5 linked regions of the Homo sapiens genome follow. The protein of the gene in region 2 purifies or fractionates together with the protein of the main gene of each other region. This does not show direct contact. Each region holds a gene or a part of one and is shown on either strand. Other genes may lie near its edges.

Region 1 (3,684 bases), on a different chromosome or scaffold from region 2:
GCCACACCCAGCTAATTTTTTGTATTTTAGTAGAGACAGGGTTTCACCATTTTGCCCAGGCTGGTCTCGAACTCCTGAGCTCAGGCAATCCACCCACCACAGCCTCCCGAAGTGGTAGGATTACAGGCCTGAACCACCACGTCTGGCCTGTTCCCCTTTTTATAAGGACAGTCATATTGGCTTAGGGTTCACTCTTGTGATCTCATTTAATTCTAATTACCTTTAAAGACCCTATCTCCAAATACAGTCACATTCTGAGGTACTGGGAGTTATTAGGATTTCAATATATGATTTTAACAATTCAGCCCATAACAGTACTACTTAATTTTTGTGTATTTCATTTTACATCCCACAACTTTGTTAACCCTATTACAAACACGAATGTGTATGTACATACCTTCCAAATTTTTATTTACATGAACAGGCATATAATCTGCAACTAATATCAGTGTTTTCTTCCTTCCTTATCAATTCTTACACCTTTTATTTCTCTTTCTTGCCTTTCTGTACTCACTGAGACCCCGGATTCAGTGTTATATTTACAAAGTAGTAACTGGCAACCTTATCTTGTTCCTAATCATACAGAAAATGACGTCAGTGTTACATAATTTAATATTAACTGTGGGGGTTTTTTGTCATTATCATTTATCATGTAATGACAGTTCCTTTCTGTTCCTGGATTACAACAATTTTTAATTATGAATGGCAGTCATGTTCTTTCTGTATCTGCTGAGATGATTAAACCTTTTTTTCTTTTAATATGTTTACATATTGTGTTAAATTAATCTGTTTTCTAGAGCTAACTCTTGTATGCCTGGGATAAACCCAGTTTGCAAGTATTGTATTCTGTAGCACTTGCTAGATTTGATTGCTGGGTTTTGTTCAGGATTTTTGCATCCATGTTTAATGACACTGGCTTGTATTTTTCCTTCTTGTATTGCTCTAGTATGACTTCAGTAGCAAGTCTGTGCAAGCCTCATAAAATACGTTGAGGAGTCATCCCACTTTTTCTCTCCTCTAGAATAATTTCTGAAAGATTGGAATTAAACGTTCATTGAATGTTTAGCAGAACTCACATGTAAAGCCTTTTGGACATGTGGTTTTCTTTATGAGAAGATATTCAACAACTGATTGAATTTTTAACAACTATAGTATTATTCCAGTTCTTTTCTACTCTGTTGGTAAATTATACTTTTCTAGGAATTTATCCATTTCTTATGACTTAAAAATAATTGTCATGAAGTTTTTTATGACATCATCTTGCTCTTAAATTTCTGGATCATCTGCATTTTTGTTACCGTTGCCATTTCTGATAATCTTGGGGCCTTTTCTCTTTTTTCCTCAAACAATATTTCCAAACTCTGTCAGCAAAGTATTTCAAAGACCTAACTGGACTTTTTTTGTGCTGTTGTGTGTGTTTTCTATTTCCTTTATTTCTGCCAGTTATTTTCTTGTTTTTACTTTCTTTAGGTTTATACTTTGTCTAAAAATGTTTAGGTTGCTCATTAACTTTTAGCCTTTTCTAATATTTCAAGGTCATTAATTTCCTTATAAATTACAACTCGAAGCTGCATCTTAAAAATTTAGGTAAGAGGTTTTGTAATTATCATTTGGTTTTCAGTATTTTCTGAGAAGAAGTGTTCTTAACATCCCAACATATGATTTCTTTTTTTTTTTCTTTTTTTTTTTTTGAGACAGGGTCTTACCCTGTCACTTAGGCTAGAGTGCAATGGTGTGATCATGGCTCACTGCAACTTTGACCTCCCAGGCTCAGGTGATCCTCCCACTTCAGCCTCCCGGGTAGCTGGGACCACAGGCATGTGCCAGCACACCCAGCTAATTTTTTGTATTTTTTGTTGAGATGGCATTTTTCCATATTGCCCAGGGTGGTCTCAAACTCTTGGGCTCAAGCGATCTTCCTGTCTCGGCCTCCCAAAGTGCTGAGATTACAGGCATGAGCCACCATGCCTAGCCCATATGGTATTTTTCTATTTTGCTATTGATTTCTCAGTTAATTGCAGTGCTGTGAGAGGATAAATCATGGTCTATGTGATGACATCCTTTGACATTTGTTAACGCCTAATGTATGGTCAGTTTTCAAGTGTGCCTGAAAAGTATGAATGTTCTCTAACCACCAGGGACAGTAGCCATATATGCCTATTAACACAGTGCTACTCAACACAGTGTTTATCTTATCTATCCTTAGTGCTAATAGAAGACTGTCTTAAGATAAAAGATATTCAGATAATGGAAAACCCTTTGTTTTTCTTTGTATAGAGTGGTGAGGCTAAACGGCAATATAAAGGAACCTTAGACTGCTTTGTGAAGATATACCAACATGAAGGAATCAGTTCCTTTTTTCGTGGCGCCTTCTCCAATGTTCTTCGCGGTACAGGGGGTGCTTTGGTGTTGGTATTATATGATAAAATTAAAGAATTCTTTCATATTGATATTGGTGGTAGGTAATCGGGAGAGTAAATTAAGAAATACATGGATTTAACTTGTTAAACATACAAATTACATAGCTGCCATTTGCATACATTTTGATAGTGTTATTGTCTGTATTTTGTTAAAGTGCTAGTTCTGCAATAAAGCATACATTTTTTCAAGAATTTAAATACTAAAAATCAGATAAATGTGGATTTTCCTCCCACTTAGACTCAAACACATTTTAGTGTGATATTTCATTTATTATAGGTAGTATATTTTAATTTGTTAGTTTAAAATTCTTTTTATGATTAAAAATTAATCATATAATCCTAGATTAATGCTGAAATCTAGGAAATGAAAGTAGCGTCTTTTAAATTGCTATTCATTTAATATACCTGTTTTCCCATCTTTTGAAGTCATATGGTATGACATATTTCTTAAAAGCTTATCAATAGATGTCATCATATGTGTAGGCAGAAATAAGCTTTGTTCTATATCTCTTCTAAGACAGTTGTTATTACTGTGTATAATATTTACAGTATCAGCCTTTGATTATAGATGTGATCATTTAAAATTTGATAATGACTTTAGTGACATTATAAAACTGAAACTGGAAAATAAAATGGCTTATCTGCTGATGTTTATCTTTAAAATAAATAAAATCTTGCTAGTGTGAATATATCTTAGAACAAAAGGTATCCTCTTGAAAATTAGTTTGTATATTTTGTTGACAATAAAGGAAGCTTAACTGTTATAAAGGAGTCTTTTTTTCCCTGACTCTGACTTTATTAGTAAGCAGAGTATAGCAAAATTTTTGTCAGAACTGGCTTAACTAAAGAGAGAGGTATTTCTCAATGGACAGATATAAACAGCATTCCAAGGTTTTGTACGGGAGTTTGTCTTGTTTTTCAGAGCTGTTGTAGAATACAGTATATTTGAAATCCCCAAGTTTTTAACGTTCTAATGAGTAAAGGGATGTTAAGCTAGTGGGGATAAACTATAGACGGATTTTCTGAGGCTGTGAATGGGCAAAATGGGGTGGAGGAACTTCCTTATGCACAGGGACAAAGCGTATTTCAAGGACAATAATACAGACCATACTTTTAAATATATTGGTGTTATCCCTCAAGAGGAAAAAAAGTCAAACTCTAAACATCATTTCTTGCAGTGGTCAACATAATGGAGTTACAGGAACAAAATAGAAAATATTTTCCTTTCCTGCTGCACTATCAAATGGTTCAAAGAAAGATGGTT
Region 2 (3,987 bases):
GATCAGTGATTCTCAAAATGTGGCCAAGGGATCAGCAGCATCAGCATCACCTGGGAACTCAGAAATGCATATTCTTAGGTTCACCTCAGACATACAAAATCAGAAAATCAGGGGTGGAGTCTAGCAATATGTGTCTTAGGCTCTCAAAGTGGCTTTGATGCATGCTCAAGTTTGAGATCCACTGGCTTATATTCTTAGCCCTTCTGGCAAATATCTTCCTCATTTAACTGGCCCTGTATCATTGGTTAGCTGGCAGCCAAACTGTCAACACTTTATGAGATCTAGAATTCTGCGATCTCTAACACAGAAAATCCCAATTGCTTACTGTCCAAACCTCATTCATATTTCCTTTATGATCCTAGGTCTGACAACATCAGAAAATGAGTATTGCCACAGAAATGAGTTTTCCAGAAATATAAACTTAGTTCCTTTGAAAGTAAATTTTAAAAATATATTCTTCATGGTTATGGGTGATAAGGGTTTGAAAAGACCTTACTGGTCAGCACTGCCAACCTCCTTCCTTGTGAAGGAATCATCAGTACAGTAGCTCATACAAGTGTCCATTAAGATGCTGCTTGAATAATTCCAAAGAGGGGAGCTTACCACCTTAGCAGACAGTTCATATTCTGTGTTCCAAGAGTTTCCAAAGGATATATCAATGAGGAAGCTCCACTTTGGTAGCAGGCAGAAATGATTTGTTTGGTCTGACTGAAAGCTTGGAGTGCTTTAAACTACATTCCAGAGGCAGCTGCCTGCTCTGCTTTTCCCCAAGGCTAGCTCTCAACTCCCAGAATCCCAGAATGAGAGCACATCAAATCAGTACATTTAGAGGGTACTGAGTCCCCCTTATAGTGCAGAGAGGGAAAATGAGGCCCAGAGAGAAGGGACTTGTCCAGTGATATATAGTCAGTTAGTGACAGAGCCAGGGCTGGATCTCAGAACTCCTGAATTCTTCTGCTCTACCACAGCCTGCACTGATGCCTGCTCCCCGAGCTAGGCCTAAGCCACATCTCAAGGAAAGGCCCTATCATTCACCACTACCTCTTTCTCAAAGGCTTTAGAGATAGGCTCCAGGCAGCCACGTACCACATTGATGTCAGCGTGGATCAGTCGGAGTTCCTCCACATGGGCCATCTTCTCCTGTAGCAGAAGGTCCATCTCCTGCTTGTATTCCTTCAGGTGCCTTTCCTCTGACTCAAGTGCCTCAAACTCAGCCTTCAAACGAGCCTTGATCTTCTCCATCTGCAGGGTCTTGTTCCTGCAATTTGCAAAAAGCAGGAAACAGGCCAGCAAAAGAAGGGAGAAAATAGAAATGGAGCCAGGACTTTTTTTCTAAGCCATCTTTACAAGCTTCCCCCTCTCCAGGCAGAGCCAACCTGAGGCCATCTCAAAAAAGAAGGCCAGGTGCAATGGCTCATGCCAGTAATCTCAGCAATTTGGAAGACAGAGGCAGGAGGATCACTTGAGCCCAGGAGTTTGAAACCAGCATGGGCAACATAGTGAGACCTTATATCTACAAAAAAAAAAAAGAAAAAGAAAAAAGAAAAAAAAAAGAAAAAGAAAAAGAAAAAGAAAGAAAGAAAGAAAGAATTAGCCACACATGGTGGTACATGCCAGTAGTCTCAACTACTCAGGAGGATAAGGCAGGAGGATTGCTTAAGCTATGATTGCACTACTGCACTCCAACCTAGGTGACAGAGCAAGACCTTGTCTCAAGAAAAAGTTAGGAGATGTTTCCCTCTAAAAGCTCAGTGGGTCTCGAATGGGGTTAATTTTGTTCCCTTATGGGGCATTTGCAAATATGGAGTGTTTTGGCTGTTAGATTGACTCAAGGAAATGTGTTACTGGCATTTAGTGGACATGGGCCAGAGATGCTAAATAGCCTCTCAATGCCCAGGAAAGTCCTGAACACAAAGAACTCCCACCCAAGAAACCAAAAATGATCTCTTGAGAAACTCTAAGTAAGCACTGTCCAATAAACTTACTACAGTGATGGAAATGTTTTGTATCTGTGCTGTCCAGTATAATAGCCACTATGCACATATGGCTACTGAGCACTTGTGATGTGGCCAGTGCTACTGAGGAACTGAGTTTTGAATTTTATTTAATCAAACTTAAAATTTAAACAGCCACGTGTGGCTACTGGCTGTCATATTAGACAGCACAACTCTAGAGGGTGTGTTTATCAGTTCCAGAAAAGGAAGGGGAAAGGATATTATGGGTAATTTCTTTCTTAGAAAAAGAAAAACCTGGTTTTGGTCATTAAATCCCAATTGTATACCGTGTGGCTCAGGAATCCTATACTTGGGAATATATTTTAAGGAGGTAATTCAAGGAAGCAAAAAGTTAATACACAGAGGTGTACTTTCTGGGCTTTCAGCAAAATTAGGATATTTGACAGCCACTGAAGACTTGTGACATAGAAAATGTTGAAGATAAGATACTCGCTGAAAAAGTGTACACACTAAGATTACAATTTCAAAACATACATGGATGTGACTAAATAAGAAAAAGATTTGGAAGAAACACAGTTTCAAGGGCCTTTAATAACATAATTTGAAGCCTGCCTCTGGGAAAGGGCTACAAAGTTTTGAAAGGGGTACCCTCTAAGGCATGTTGTTGTCTTCCCACTGGCTCCCTACCATGCTTCTCAGGATCTGCCTAGCCATTATCCCCTTACTCAGATTTGTAGTCTCCTTTCTTCTCCCTCAGTAGCTGATCTTCCCCTCTGCCCCAGTCTATCCTATGGGTGATCCAACTCCACACACTGGACTCTGGCTTCTGCCATCAGCCTGCTTGTCTTCAGTCTCTCTTTTCTTGACATTGCCTGTGCCTCTTGCCTCAAGAGGTAGCCTTCAATGGCACAGAACTACAGAAAGAACTGTTAGGTGGGTAGGATGGTGGGAGAAGTTTCTCTTTCTATACTAAGAAAACATCTTTTCATGTTATTGTATTTTTTTTTTTTTTGTAACCTTAGAAATGGGTTAAAAGGTGGGTGTTATCCCATTTGTAGAGAAGGGAATTGAGTGAGGTTCAGGGTGGTAACTTGCCCAGTACCACAGAGCTAGTAAATTGGATGTTGGGATTTGAACCAGGGCTCTCTAACACCAAAGCCTACATACCATCCATACCATCCACTACTCTATATTGCCTTTGAACAGGGTTACCAGGCTGAAGGGCATAAAAACATCAAGGGTTCTTGTTATAGCTCATCAACTGTCTTGCAGAGGGAAGATACTGATTTGTATTGGTTAATTACTTATTTGCTTATATCCCCATCTATCTAGACTTCTATTCTCCTCCTTTTCTAGGTTACGTGAAGATAAACCTGAACTTTGCCTGCTCCTGTAACCATTTTACCGATGGGAAAACTAAGATTCAGAGTAGTATAGTGTCTCACCCTAAGTGTCATACAACCAGTTAGGGCAGTGCTGGGCCAAGAACCTATTTCTGCAGACAAAGTCATATCATAAAAGAAGCATGCGCTTTAGACTCAGACTTCAATTATAAATCCTGGTTCTGCCTCTGATTAACTATTTGCTTTTGGACAATAATAACAACTGTATTTTAACTATATTTATTGAGCACTTACTATGTATTAATTATAGAGGGTTTCAATATATATTCAGTCAATAATTATTTATTGAATACTTATCATGTGCCAGGCATTCATTGTACTAGGTACTAGGGATAGAGCAGAGAACAAGACAGTATATAGACAGCAAGTTTCATCTAATGAAGAAAATCGATCCTGAACACAAGGTTGTATGTAAAATCATATTAGTGGTAGGGAGGAGATGCAGAATGTGATAGAAGGATACAACAAAGGGACCTAACATAGTCTGAGGGACACTATAGGGTAAAGGGGACAGTCAGAGGAGGCTTCCCTGAGAACTGAGGATGTGAAATCTAAGCTGAGACCTGAAGAATCAATAGGAGTTCGCTGGTGAGTGCAGGTGGGCACACAGGAGAACAGTCCAGACAAAA
Region 3 (3,987 bases), on a different chromosome or scaffold from region 2:
CCGTGGTTTTGTTTTGCGTATGCTGATATAGACATTTAAGTGGTACTTAATATACCTTTATAATAAGGTAAATCAACTTTTTTTCCAAAATGAAGATACCTTAATGTGTTTGATTACAAAAGTAATACACATACAGGAAACTTAAACATTATGTAAAAATAGAAAGTAAAGACACTAGAAAGGGTGCTGTCCAGAAAAGCTCCACGTTACAGCTGTTTTGCACTAGTGAACGGGATGCGTTGGAGGCTGTGGCCACTGCCCTGGCCGGCTTGTCTGCGGCTCTCACTCAGGTGCCAGGGAGTTTTTCTCACGGCTGTGCATGTGATGATTCATCACCCTTAAAGAATTCCCGGCCGGGCATGGTGGGTCGTGCCTGGAATCCCAGCACTTTGGGAGGCCAAGATGGGTGGATCACTTGTCAGGAGTTCAAGACCAGCCTGGCCAATATGGTGAAACCCCATCTCTAACTAAAAATACAAAAATTAGCTGGGTGTGGTGGTACGTGCCTGTAATCCCAGCTACTTGGGAGGCCGAGGTGGGAGAATCGCTTGAACCTGGGAGGTCGAGGTTGCAGTGAGCCGAGACCGCACCACTGCACTCCAGCCTGGGCGACAGTGAGACTCTGTCTCAAAAAAAAAATAATAATAATTAGGCCAAGCATGCTGATGTGCTCCTGTAGTCCCAGCACTTTGGGAGGCTGAGGCCAGAGGCCAGAGGACCCCTTGAAGCCAGGAGTTCCAGGCTGTAGTGAGCCGTGGTTCTGCTACTGCTCTCCAGCCTGGGTGACAGAGCAAGACTCTGTCCACCCCCCACCCCCAACAAAAAGAATTTCACTATATAGATGTTTCTTGATTTTTCAAACTGGTCTGTTAGTTTGTGTTCAGTTTGTCACCTTTGTGAGAAAAAAAACACTCATAAGTTAGTGTGTACTTCCTACTTAATTTCTCCTGGGTCATCGTGAAGCACTCCCTGCCCTCCATGAGAACAGTATGTCACCCGCTCTCTTCCCTGTGCCAAGCCCATAAAGGGCTGTTGGCAAATATGTCGGACAAATAGACTCGCCTAAGAGGGCCTTTCTCTCCAAGCCCTCGCCAGCACAGGCTGTGTCACTTTCTTAGGTGGCACCTACCGTCTGTTGCACACTTGCCGCAGATGATTTGGCACAGGATGTCGCTTCAGAAAACCTTGTAGGAAGCTGTGAGGTCGTTACCGTCCCCATTTCACAGACAGGAAAGTGCAGGCCTTAGATGCACTGCCTGATACCCTGTGGCCCCCGCGTTCCTAGACAGATACACTGCCTGGTACACTGTACCCCCCCACCCCCGCTATCGTTTGCAGCTGGGGTTGAACCCTGCATTCATAGACAGGTTCCCCCTTGAGTGAGCCCCCCATCTGCTTAACTGAGGGCTTGTCCTGGTTATAAATGTCTGGGTGGGGGTGGGCACTGCTGGCTGCAGCTGTCAGGACTGGGAATGCTGAACCTGCACTGAGGGGAGTAGGCCCCAGAGATGCTCCCAAGACCCTGGAGACACAGGCCAGGTAGACACCTGTGTGTGTGTGTATATATATGTGTGTGTGTGTATATATATATATGTGTGTGTGTGTATATATATGTACATATATATATACACACACACACACATACATATAAAAGAGCCGGGCATTGTTTGTGTGTGTGTGTGTGTATATATGTATATATGTGTGTGTGTGTGTGTATATATATAGTGTGTATATATAGTGTGTATATAGTGTATATAGTGTGTGTATATATATATTGTGTGTATATATATCGTGTGGATATATATTGTGTGGATATATATATAGTGTATATATATTGTGGACATATGTATAGTGTGTATATATATTGTGGACATATATAGTGTATATATATTTTGGACATATATAGTGTATATATATTGTGGATATATATATAGTGTGTATATATATTGTGGATATATATATAGCGGGTATATGTAGTGGATATATATAGTATATATATATTGTGGATATACACACACACACAATAGCTGGGCATTGTAGTGCATGCTTGTAGTCCCAGTTACTCAGGAGGCTGAGGTAGAAGGATAACCTGAGCCCAGGGAGATTGAGGCTGCAGTGAGCCGTGATCAGTCGCTCCATTGCCCTCCAGCCTGGGCGACAGAGACCCTGTCTCCAAAAAAAAAAAAAAAAAATTGGCTGCAGCTCCAATTTGAGAAGCAAATTCTTGTGAGAGAAGGGTTTTTAAAGAAGAAACCCCATTCTCTCCACCTGAACTTAGGGTGGCCATCATCTCACTTGGCAATCCCTGCCTGGTCAGTAATCACATGAAACTGAATGAGAGTAGACAGGGTGTCTGGAAAAAGTGAATGCTAAAGCAGTACCTGTCACTGCCACTAGGATCCTGACTGAACCGGAATGGCCTCGGGGAGCAGCCTTTCAGGCTCCAGCAGTGGAAGGCGCTGCTGTGTCAGCGGTTACCAGACTGGCAGGACCCAGGACTGCTTTACACTCCTAAAAAGCAGGGAAGACCCCAAAGAGCTTTTGTTATATCTATTGATAGTCACCATGTTTGACATTTAAAAATGAGTCATTTAAATGCTGAAGTGCCTTCTATTTAAAATTGGAAACCAGCCGGGCACGGTGGCTCATGCCTGTAATCCTAGCACTTTGGGAGGCCAAGGTGGGCGGATCACCTGAGGTCAGGAGTTCAAGACCAGCCTGGCCAACATGGTGAAACCCTTTCTCTACTAAAGACACAAAAAAAATAACTCGGCATGGTGGCACACGCCTGTAATCCCAGCTACTCGGGAGGCTGAGGCAGGAGAATCCCTTGAACCCAGGAGGCGGAGGTTGCAGTGAGCTGAGATCGTGCCACTCCACTCCAGCCTAAGTGAGAGCGAGACTCCATCTCAAATAAATAAAGTAAAATTGTAAACCATTATATATTAACATAAGTAAACCATTTAGTGGAACCTGTTTTCAATGACGAAAACAATGAGAAAGATGGTTTTGTTTTCACAAATCTGTTTGGCTTAACTGACAGCTTCTGGATTCTCCTTCCGAATTCAAACTTAGTGTCTCCGTTCAGCTTCTGAAATGCTCTAGCATATACTCAGAGTGGCTGTGGAAACAGCATGGAATGTTGGTGTTGTGCAGACTGCTTTGATCCGGGGGCCTCCCAAAAGGACCCCTGGACCACGCTTTGAGAACCACTTCTCTAAGAGTTGTAAAATAGCTCTAAACACTTGGGGAAATTGATTACTTTTAGGAAGATAAGCTGTGTCTTTGAACAATTTTTAGTGGCTCAACCATGTGCTTGCCCCTTGGGGCAAGTGTGGAATCAATCTGATGCGCTGTCACCGGTAAAGCTGTTCCAGTACACACCTCTCCCTCAAAGTGCCCTACACAGCCCCTTGCTGAATCCTTTGCAGCAGTGAAAATCGGGGGTTGGGGGGAGGCAAGAGTAGGCTGTGCTTGGGGCCATGGAATTATGCAGGTCTCTAAGGGTGTGGACCGAGGAGAACATAAAGGAACAGTGATTTAAACCTGTAATAAACAGATGCCCTTGAGGGGAAGCAGCCCCCACAGTACCCTGCTGGGATGACCTCCCGCAGCGCACCCCACTCACATGGTACCCGGGGAGCTCACACTGCCACACTTGCGGCATGAGGTGGATTTCTTCATGGGGATAAGAACCTGTGCATTGTGGTCCTCACCAGGGCCCAAGTGGTAATCTTTTATTAAGAGCAACAGGAATCCTGGTATGTAGAATTGGGACCGTATCTTAAGTGTTTGAAACCATACTTTCTTTTTTACTGAGACAAGAGGAGTCCATCAAAGGTAGTGGTTTAGGAGACTTTATGTCCAGCCATTAAATAGAGAACAATAAACCTCACTTCTCCTTCACCTCGATAAATGATTTTATGTGACTGTTTCTGGTTCCTGGCATTCATTTGGAGAGTTGAAATTTCCCACCTGAGTTGCCCA
Region 4 (4,058 bases), on a different chromosome or scaffold from region 2:
CTGGAAATTTCTTCCCCTGCAAGGCTCTGTCTCTCACCCCCTTCTGGTCTTTGCTAAAAACGCCACCTACTTGATGAGGTTTTTCCTGATCCTCCTATTTTAAATTGCAAACACTTGGCTGGGCGCGGTGGCTCACACCTATAATCCCAACAGTTTGGGAGGCCGAGGTGGGTGTATCACCACCTGAGGTCAGGAGTTCAAGACTAGCCTAGCCAATATGGTGAAACCCCATCTCTACTAAAAATACAAAAAGTAGTCGGACGTGGTGGGCACCTGTAATCCCAGCTACTCGGGAGGTTGAGGCAGAAGAATTGCTTAAACCCGGGAGAAGGAGGTTGCAGTGAGCCGAGAACGCGCCATTGTACTCCAGCCTGGGCGACAAGAGCAAAACTCCGTCTCAAAAAAACAAAGAAAAAAATTGCAAACACTTAACTCCCCCACTCCATTCTCCTTCTCTAATTTTTTCTTTATAGCCCTTATCACCATCTGACTGACAGATTCTTTTAAATTTTGATATTTTGTTTGCCATGGATTTTTTGCATTTTGTTTTTTTAAAAAAACAATTGTATTAAAATACTGTTTATCTTGGTTACTGAGTTCTTTGCTCCCATTCCCTGCCCTGCTTAAATTTCGCTCTATTGGTTTATTGACTGTGTCCTCTCTAGAACACAAGCTACACTGAACGCAGTTAATTTTGTCTGTTTGGTTCACTTCACTGTCCCCAGTGTCTACAGCAGTGGCTTCTACGTGGTAGCAGCTCAAAAAATATTTTGTGAATGGAAGTTTGAATCTGTGTCTTAAAGACTGTCTTGGGCACTGTAATAAAGGCGTCTTTCTCAAACTGTTTCACAATTTTATACTATTTAAATGGAAAGCCCGTAAAAATCATAGGATAGATTAGAAACTACACTGCCCAGTGTGTCGTCATGGTTACACTGTCGCCAGTGGTTCTCCTATTGGGGGAGTGGGCGGGGCCTGGCAGGGGCAGGAAGAGCACCCTCAAGTCATCATAGAGTTATACCTCCCAAGTTCCTAGAAAGTACTTCCGGAACGGTGATTTACTCAAGGCTGCCCTGGCCAATCAACGATCTTGGGGAAAGCCGGGTACTCGCTCTTTGGCTACACTTCCGGAAAACCTCTCACGCGCGCCTAGCGTGGGGCGGGGCCAGAGCGCCCCTGCCCTCGGCCCCGCCTCCGTGAGCGCGGCTTTGCAATTGGCGAAAAGGGCAGGAGGCGGGGCTTAGGAGCGGGCTTGCTCGAGGCGCAAGCGCGCTGGCCCGGCACGGCGGTGGTCTTGCGGGAGGCGTGGGCTGGGATTGCGGTAGGTGAACGTGGGTGACTCCCAGACCTGAGGGACGGGCGCGGGCAGCGAAATGAAGCGAGCACGCGGTGTGGGCGCGGAGACCTAGGACCCTGGTGTCCGTTTTCCCACTTGCATCCCGTCCTTGAGTTGGGGCGGGCGAGAATCCCATAAACTTTTCGATACTCCTGGTCTCCGTGTCCTCCGTTGTAAAATGAGGGCAGCACTTCCTGGTCTCTCCCTCGGTCGTCGTGAGAGTCACACAGTTCTCGAAGTGCCAGCTCTGGAAAGGCCCTGGGACCACCTGCTGCCTGAGCCAGCCTTCCCGTTTTATGTTGGAGAAAACGGAGGTCCGGGGCGAAGTGAGTGGTCCAGGGTCACCGAGCGAGTGAAGGCCGAGCTTGTTCTTAGAACTAGGCCTAGGGTTCCATTGCTGTTTAATGTAGCACAGTTCGTGATGGAAACTGTAGGATTTGGAGGCGGGGACCTTGCCTTCCAGGCCCGACCCTGCGCTTATTTGCTGTGTGGCTTGACACAAGTGACTTTATATTTCAGAGCCTCCCTTTTCTGAGTTGGGCATAATAATAATAATAATAGCACTTTGTGAGACTTAATATTATGTATCAGGTACGGTTGTAAACGCTTTAGGTACAACTTTTCTGATTAGATTGGGGGGCAATGGTGAGTCAAAGAATCTTTAAAAAGGCCTGGGCTGGAAGGGCTGACAGTGTCCCGACAGAGTAGGTACTCAAAAAAATCGACTGAATGTCTCAGAGGCTGTTTGCCAGAGCCTGAAGTGTTGCATACGTTAGTTACTGTATTGCTCCTGAAAAACTGAGATAATTCTACTTATTCTCCTGTTTGTATAAGCTGAGGGGTCTGAGGACAGACATGCTAAACGTGGAGGAGAAGAGTTTAAAGCTCTCGTTTAAATTATCCAGATAATTATATCATTGCACCTGTTTGCTTTGCTCTTAATTTATTAACATATTTGATCAACAGATAATAATAGCCTAAATAGTAGGCATTATGCGAGACTCTGAAATTTAAAGATGTATAAAACTTCATAAACTTGTAATTTCATCAAGGAATAGAATGTTAAACATCGACACTGACCTCCCCTCCTGGCCCCCGTACACACCCCCAGAAAGAAAAAAAATTGTATGTGAAACACCATTCGCTTCCAATGCCTGGCACACAATAGTTCCTCAAAAATATTTTTGGAGATGATTCTAATACAGTATACTAAAAAGAGGTGTGTGCAGTGGAGCACAGAGGAGGTGACTTTCTCTGTTTAGAGGGGTTGGAGAAAGTTTCTTGGAGTAAGTGAACCTTGAATTCCAGTTGGAATTGCTGGGGGTTGGGGGGAGGTCAGTCTGTTTCAAGAATAATGAGCAACTTGGGGAATGCTAGGATAAGAAGCTGGAAGAGGTGTGTTGGGATCAAAATGTGAAGAGCTTTGGTGCCATTCTGAGAAAATTATGAGAGCCAGCCGTTAATGGATTGTAAACAGGGGAGTGATTGGGTCAGCTATCTTTTTAGCTGGAGACTAATACGGAGACTGGACTGACAGGGTTCAAGAATTACTCCATTCATTCATTGATAGAACATGTATTGAGCCTGGGCACAGTGGCTCACACCTATAATCCCAGCAATTTGGGAAGCTGAGGCAGGTGGATCGCATGAGGCCAGGAGTTCAAGACCAGCCTGGGCAACATAGCAAGACTCCATCTCTATTTTTTAAGAAAGAAAAAAAGGAACATGTTATTGAGTGTCCACTGTGTCCAGGCACTGTGCTGAATGCTGCAGATAAAACTTGGAATAAAATAGACATAGCTGTCGTCTTCATGGAGTTTAAGACATTAGTCATTGGTGGTACACAGCTAGACCCCTGCAGTGGTTCTCCCAGTGGGGTCCCTGGACCAGCAGCATCTGTGTCACCTGGGAACTTGTTAGAAATACAGGTTCTCTGCCCACACCCCAAACTTACTAAATGAGAAGCTCTGGAGATGGGCCTCTGCAATCACTGTTTTAACAAACCCAACCGGGCATGGTGGCTCACGCCTGTAATCCCAGCACTTTGGGAGGCCGTGGCGGGCTGATCACTTGAGGTCAAGGAGTTTGAGACCAGCCTGGCCAACATGGTGAAACTCTGTCTGTACTAAAAATATGAAAAATAGTTGGGCATGGTGGCACATGCCTGTAATTCCAGCTACTCAGGAGGCTGAGGCAAGAGAATCTCTTGAGGCTGGGGGTACGGAGGTTGCAGTGATCTGACATTGCACCACTGCACTCCAGCCTGGGTGATAGAGTGAACTCTGTCTCTAAAAAAAAAAAAAAAAAAACAAGCCCTCCAGCGATTCTGATGCTCAATTAGATTTCAGAACCACTGGGTAACTGTAATGTAGCAAGTGGTATTGAGGGGCTAACCTAATGTTGAGGCAGTAAGGGCCAGAAAGGAGGGGGTGGACTTAAGGGAAACCTTGAGACAGACTCATTTGCTTTAGGAGGAATCAAGGATGAGTTTCTGGCTGGAGCCACTGCCCTAAGTAAGGTTGGATCACAAGGAAGTTATAGAGCCAGGGGTGAATCCACATGTGCCTTGCCTCCATGGCCCGTACGTTCCTACAACACCACACTAGGGCTCTGTGGCAGTGCCTGACCACCTTTAAACATTTGTACAGTGCACAGGGGAAATGAATGAGGCTGCTTGAGGTTGGAGGGGACAAGCTGGAGGACCTGAGGCTGCTAGAGGTAA
Region 5 (3,987 bases), 9.7 Mb from region 2:
TCTTAATATCGTAATGTGGTGTAGGTTATATCTTATTTACAGTTACAGATTCATAGAACTGGAAAGTACCTTGCAGATGGTTTAATCCAATACTCTAATATTGATGGAGACTTCTCTGGCACAAGAGGTTAAATGAATTGGCCAAATCCACATAACCAAGTTACAACCAAGACTGGATTTCAGTATCTCTTTTTTCCTTTCACAGAGCTGAGTTTCACCCTGCTACCCATGTGTAGAATAAAAAAAGATACCTGGTTGTTAGCAAATATTTTTCTGTTACAAATACCATAACATTTTAATTAAACATTCTATATATGAAGAATCCCCAACACTTTTGGTGCCTACATACGTAATGATATGATGGTACTTTTTGTTTTCTGGCCTTAAATTCAGCAGTTCTTTGTGATTTAACTTTTAAAAAACTGAATAAAGTATTTTTCATTTTGGTGATGGTATTTAACATTTTCTTCATTGACACAGATCACATGTCACTAGTTCTTAAAGGACTCCTTTATGAAGTTCTTTTTTGTTTTTTTTGTGTGTGTGTGTTTTTGGTGTGTGGTTTTTTGTTTGTTTGTTTTGAGACGGAGTCTCGCTCTGTCACCCAGGCTGGAGTGCAATGGCACGATCTCTGCTCACTGCAACCTCCACCTCCCAGGTTCAAGCAATTCTCCCACCTCAGCCTCCTGAGTAGCTGGGATTACAGGCACCTGCCATCATGCCTGGCAAATTTTTGTATTTTTGTAGAGACAGGGTTTCACCATGTTGGCCAGACTGCTCTTGAACTCCTGACCTCAGGTGATCCGCCCGCGTCGGCCTCCCGAAGTGTTGGGATTACAGGCATGAGCCACTGTACTCAGCCTCCTTTATGAGATTCTTGATGAAGCTCTGTTGCAAACAAAATGGATTGCCCTTCTCTTGTCAGTGTGACACATTTTTGTGTTCATACCCATAATTTTTTAAAAATTGGCATGTCCTGCTTTAGAACTTTATTATAGAATTTGGAGCTTGAATGAACACATATGCACAAGGTGAAATATTCAACATGATTTAGTAGTTAGTTGATGTTACGTTACCTTAATTCCTCCCTCCCACCCACCCCACTTTTTTTAAAAAACGAGGTAATTTCTTCCATATGACTTTTTAAATTTTGATATGGAGTCTCTGTCACCCAGACTAGACTGCTGTGACGTGATCTGAGTTCACTGCAACCTCTGCCCCCAAACTCAAGTGATCCTCCCACCTCAGCCACATCAGCTCCCAAGTAGCTAGGACCACAGATGCGCGTTACCATGCCCAGCTAAGTTTTTGTGTCTTTGGTAGAAACGGTTTCACCATGTTGCCCAGGCTGGTTTTGAACTCCCGGGCTCAAGCGATCCGCCGACCTCGACCTCCCAAAGTGCTAGGATTACAGATGTCGGCCACCACACTCGGCCAGCACCATGCCCAGCCAAGATGACTCACTTTTTAAAATTGGTTTTTACACAGGCATTTCACTTGGTGTTTCAGAATTTAGTTTTGTAAGGTCTGTTTTATTAACAGTATTTTTGGATGCCTTAAGTCTCCTTAATTGGGTACTATAATGTAGTGTGTCCATCAAATATAACATGCCTGTGTTTATACTTAGCACCAGGTCTCCTGACCTGTTAGTACTGAACAATATGTTTTAAATAACTTTTTGCCTTAACATTATAACAATTAAATTTTTTAAAAGTTTGGTGTGCATGGATTAGAAGAATTAAATGAGATACTACATTTAGCAGTAATCAGAAACAGTCATTTGCATAATTTATATTAATATATAATAATGACTAGAAGAAGTTGAGATTATTAACAATACTTTAAAATTCTCAAAGTGAATAAAATCTGTTTTAAATAAATCTCAGGGTTGGTGTTCTTGCTGGCCTTTCCTCCCCAGAATTAAACTTACTGGATACAGTCCCATTCATTGACCAGATGAGTAGCTCTTTGAAACGATTGGGCAAAATTTCTCATTTGGTTTCTTGTTTCCAGGAATGGATTTGGATATATTGGCACACAGTACTCTAAAAGAAATAAGGTTAATAAAATATGCTGTTTATCTAAGGAGCAACTGTATTTTTAAAAATTACTAAAAGTTGACTTATTTAAAAATAAGTCCATCTAGGTTTGTGCTGCTTACAAAAGGTGTTTTGTCATTTTGGAATTTTTCATACAGGGAGTGAACATGGTATAAAAAGCTCATAGATTGAATAGTTTAGTCATACCTATTGGGATTGAAGGAAGGAATGTGTTTTAAAGTATAGAGTCTTGGGATATGTTGGGAGGCAGTTGTCTTAGTGAAAAGTTGACTGGATTTGGAATGCAGAGACCTGGATTTAATTACTGGCCCTTTCCCACTTACTAGTCACATGGTTTTTGGTAAATCACTTTCTTTCTCTGTGCTTCTGTTTGTCACCTGTAGAGGTGGTGATTCCTAATTCATGGGATTATTGTGAAGATTAAATGAAATACAGGTGTAAGGGCTATGTAAATACAGGGTGATGAGTATTGCTTATAGCCAGAGAGAGACCTAAGTGACTTCAAAACAGTTATATTTCATTGTTTAAATTACTGTATGTTTCACGGGTAATCTTTTCATAGAAAAACAGCTGATGCTAATCATATGCTGAAGTCAGAATTTCTGACTTATCTGAGATAACTAAAGAAATGGATTTATGACCTTCTCTTTTACGATGATGTTGAAAGATCCCAGCGGTGTATAAGGATTCTCTTTTTCCTCTTGCTACTTAAGCTAGAAATGTACCACAATGTTACTCACTGCAAAGTAGAATCTGGAGACCTGTTTTGTTAATGTTATTCTTCACTAATATTTTCACACCCAAAATGGAGATAGAGCTGTATTTGATCATTTGGAGTATGGTTTTCTGGTATTTTTGGCATGCCTAAACTTTAAAATGTTTGTTTGCACTTAGTAAACAATAGTGGCAGATTATATCTACCTGGGGCAGAACTTGTGGTTTTTAGATTTATTCCATTTCTTTCTTTTATGCCGCTTAGATAGTGAAGGTCTGCTTAAAATAAGACCAGGCTCATTGGGTGTGTGAGAGTAAAATTAGTTTACAAGGCATTTGAGAGCATTGCCTTGATTTCCATTTTCTTTGCAAATGTAATTATGTCTAGTCCAGGGGACCTCTGCAGGTATTGTAGCCATAGCTTACTCTTTGAATTCCCTTATAAGGGAGGGAGTGCCTTGCCAGTGCTGAAATCTCTTGACCCCCAATTCCAGCCCAGGGGAAATGCTAAGTTAAGGCAGAAAGGATGGAGGCTTTGAAATAAGTGTGTTGCAGGAGTATCATGGGGAAAATATTTTCCTTGATTGTCTCTGGCATATATATGGAAGGGTAGCAGGAAAGGAGACAGCAGCATATTATTATTATTGAAGAGGTAGTGATTTGGATTTGTTCACATGTTGCTTTATGAGTGTGTCTCATTAAAATTTTGAATTAAATAAAATTTAGAATTCCCTCTTTCATGGAACGGAATCCAAGCTCATCAAGCAGGAGCTGTTTAGGATTCAAAAATCTCTGAAATCAGTGTCAGGAAAATTTTGAATGGAGGTAAAATGTTTTGTCTCTAGTTTCTATGTAGGAAATGGTAGAAATTCTAAAAGGTCAAGAATGAATCTTGAAGATTCATGAGCATAGGAAAGACTTATCTATCCCATGAGTATTGAACATTGTAGAGTATTGAACCTTATTGTTTTATTTTTGGAAAACATAAAGGGGATGCAAATAGTGGGTTTGTAGAGCATGAAAAATATATTGGGGACATTTGAAACTCTCCCTATTTGGGATTTCTCTATCTTACAAAGAAATACTTTAAAGCTGTGCTGCCCAATATGGTAGCCATTAACCACTATGTGACTGTTAGACACTTGAAATAAGACTAGTGAAACTGAAATTTTAAGTTTTTTTTTTATTTTAAGCTTAAAAAACTGAAGTAGTG

What was found.
Region 1: the proteins of ZC4H2 (region 2) and SLC25A31 purify together in Homo sapiens (affinity purification with mass spectrometry; one large-scale study listed by BioGRID and IntAct). This does not show direct contact.
Region 3: the proteins of ZC4H2 (region 2) and DIDO1 purify together in Homo sapiens (affinity purification with mass spectrometry; one large-scale study listed by BioGRID and IntAct). This does not show direct contact.
Region 4: the proteins of ZC4H2 (region 2) and PARS2 purify together in Homo sapiens (affinity purification with mass spectrometry; one large-scale study listed by BioGRID and IntAct). This does not show direct contact.
Region 5: the proteins of ZC4H2 (region 2) and RLIM purify together in Homo sapiens (affinity purification with western blotting; one study listed by BioGRID). This does not show direct contact.

The regions. Positions count from the first base shown.
Region 1 is NC_000004.12:127,771,109-127,774,792, forward strand, and holds the end of SLC25A31 (ADP/ATP translocase 4), read left to right. Parts: intron 1-1,535; coding exon of another isoform or gene 1,536-1,587; intron 1,588-2,277; coding exon 2,278-2,466; 3' UTR 2,467-3,184; downstream 3,185-3,684. UniProt on the Homo sapiens protein: ADP:ATP antiporter that mediates import of ADP into the mitochondrial matrix for ATP synthesis, and export of ATP out to fuel the cell.
Region 2 is NC_000023.11:64,920,731-64,924,717, forward strand, and holds part of ZC4H2 (zinc finger C4H2 domain-containing protein), read right to left. Parts: intron 1,514-3,987; exon of another isoform or gene 1,259-1,513; coding exon 1,087-1,258; intron 1-1,086. UniProt on the Homo sapiens protein: Plays a role in interneurons differentiation. Involved in neuronal development and in neuromuscular junction formation.
Region 3 is NC_000020.11:62,919,838-62,923,824, reverse strand, and holds part of DIDO1 (death-inducer obliterator 1), read left to right. Parts: intron 1-3,987. UniProt on the Homo sapiens protein: Putative transcription factor, weakly pro-apoptotic when overexpressed. Tumor suppressor. Required for early embryonic stem cell development.
Region 4 is NC_000001.11:54,761,724-54,765,781, reverse strand, and holds the start of PARS2 (probable proline--tRNA ligase, mitochondrial precursor), read left to right. Parts: upstream 1-1,258; 5' UTR 1,259-1,321; intron 1,322-4,058. UniProt on the Homo sapiens protein: Mitochondrial aminoacyl-tRNA synthetase that catalyzes the specific attachment of the proline amino acid (aa) to the homologous transfer RNA (tRNA), further participating in protein synthesis.
Region 5 is NC_000023.11:74,604,303-74,608,289, reverse strand, and holds part of RLIM (E3 ubiquitin-protein ligase RLIM), read left to right. Parts: intron 1-3,987. UniProt on the Homo sapiens protein: E3 ubiquitin-protein ligase.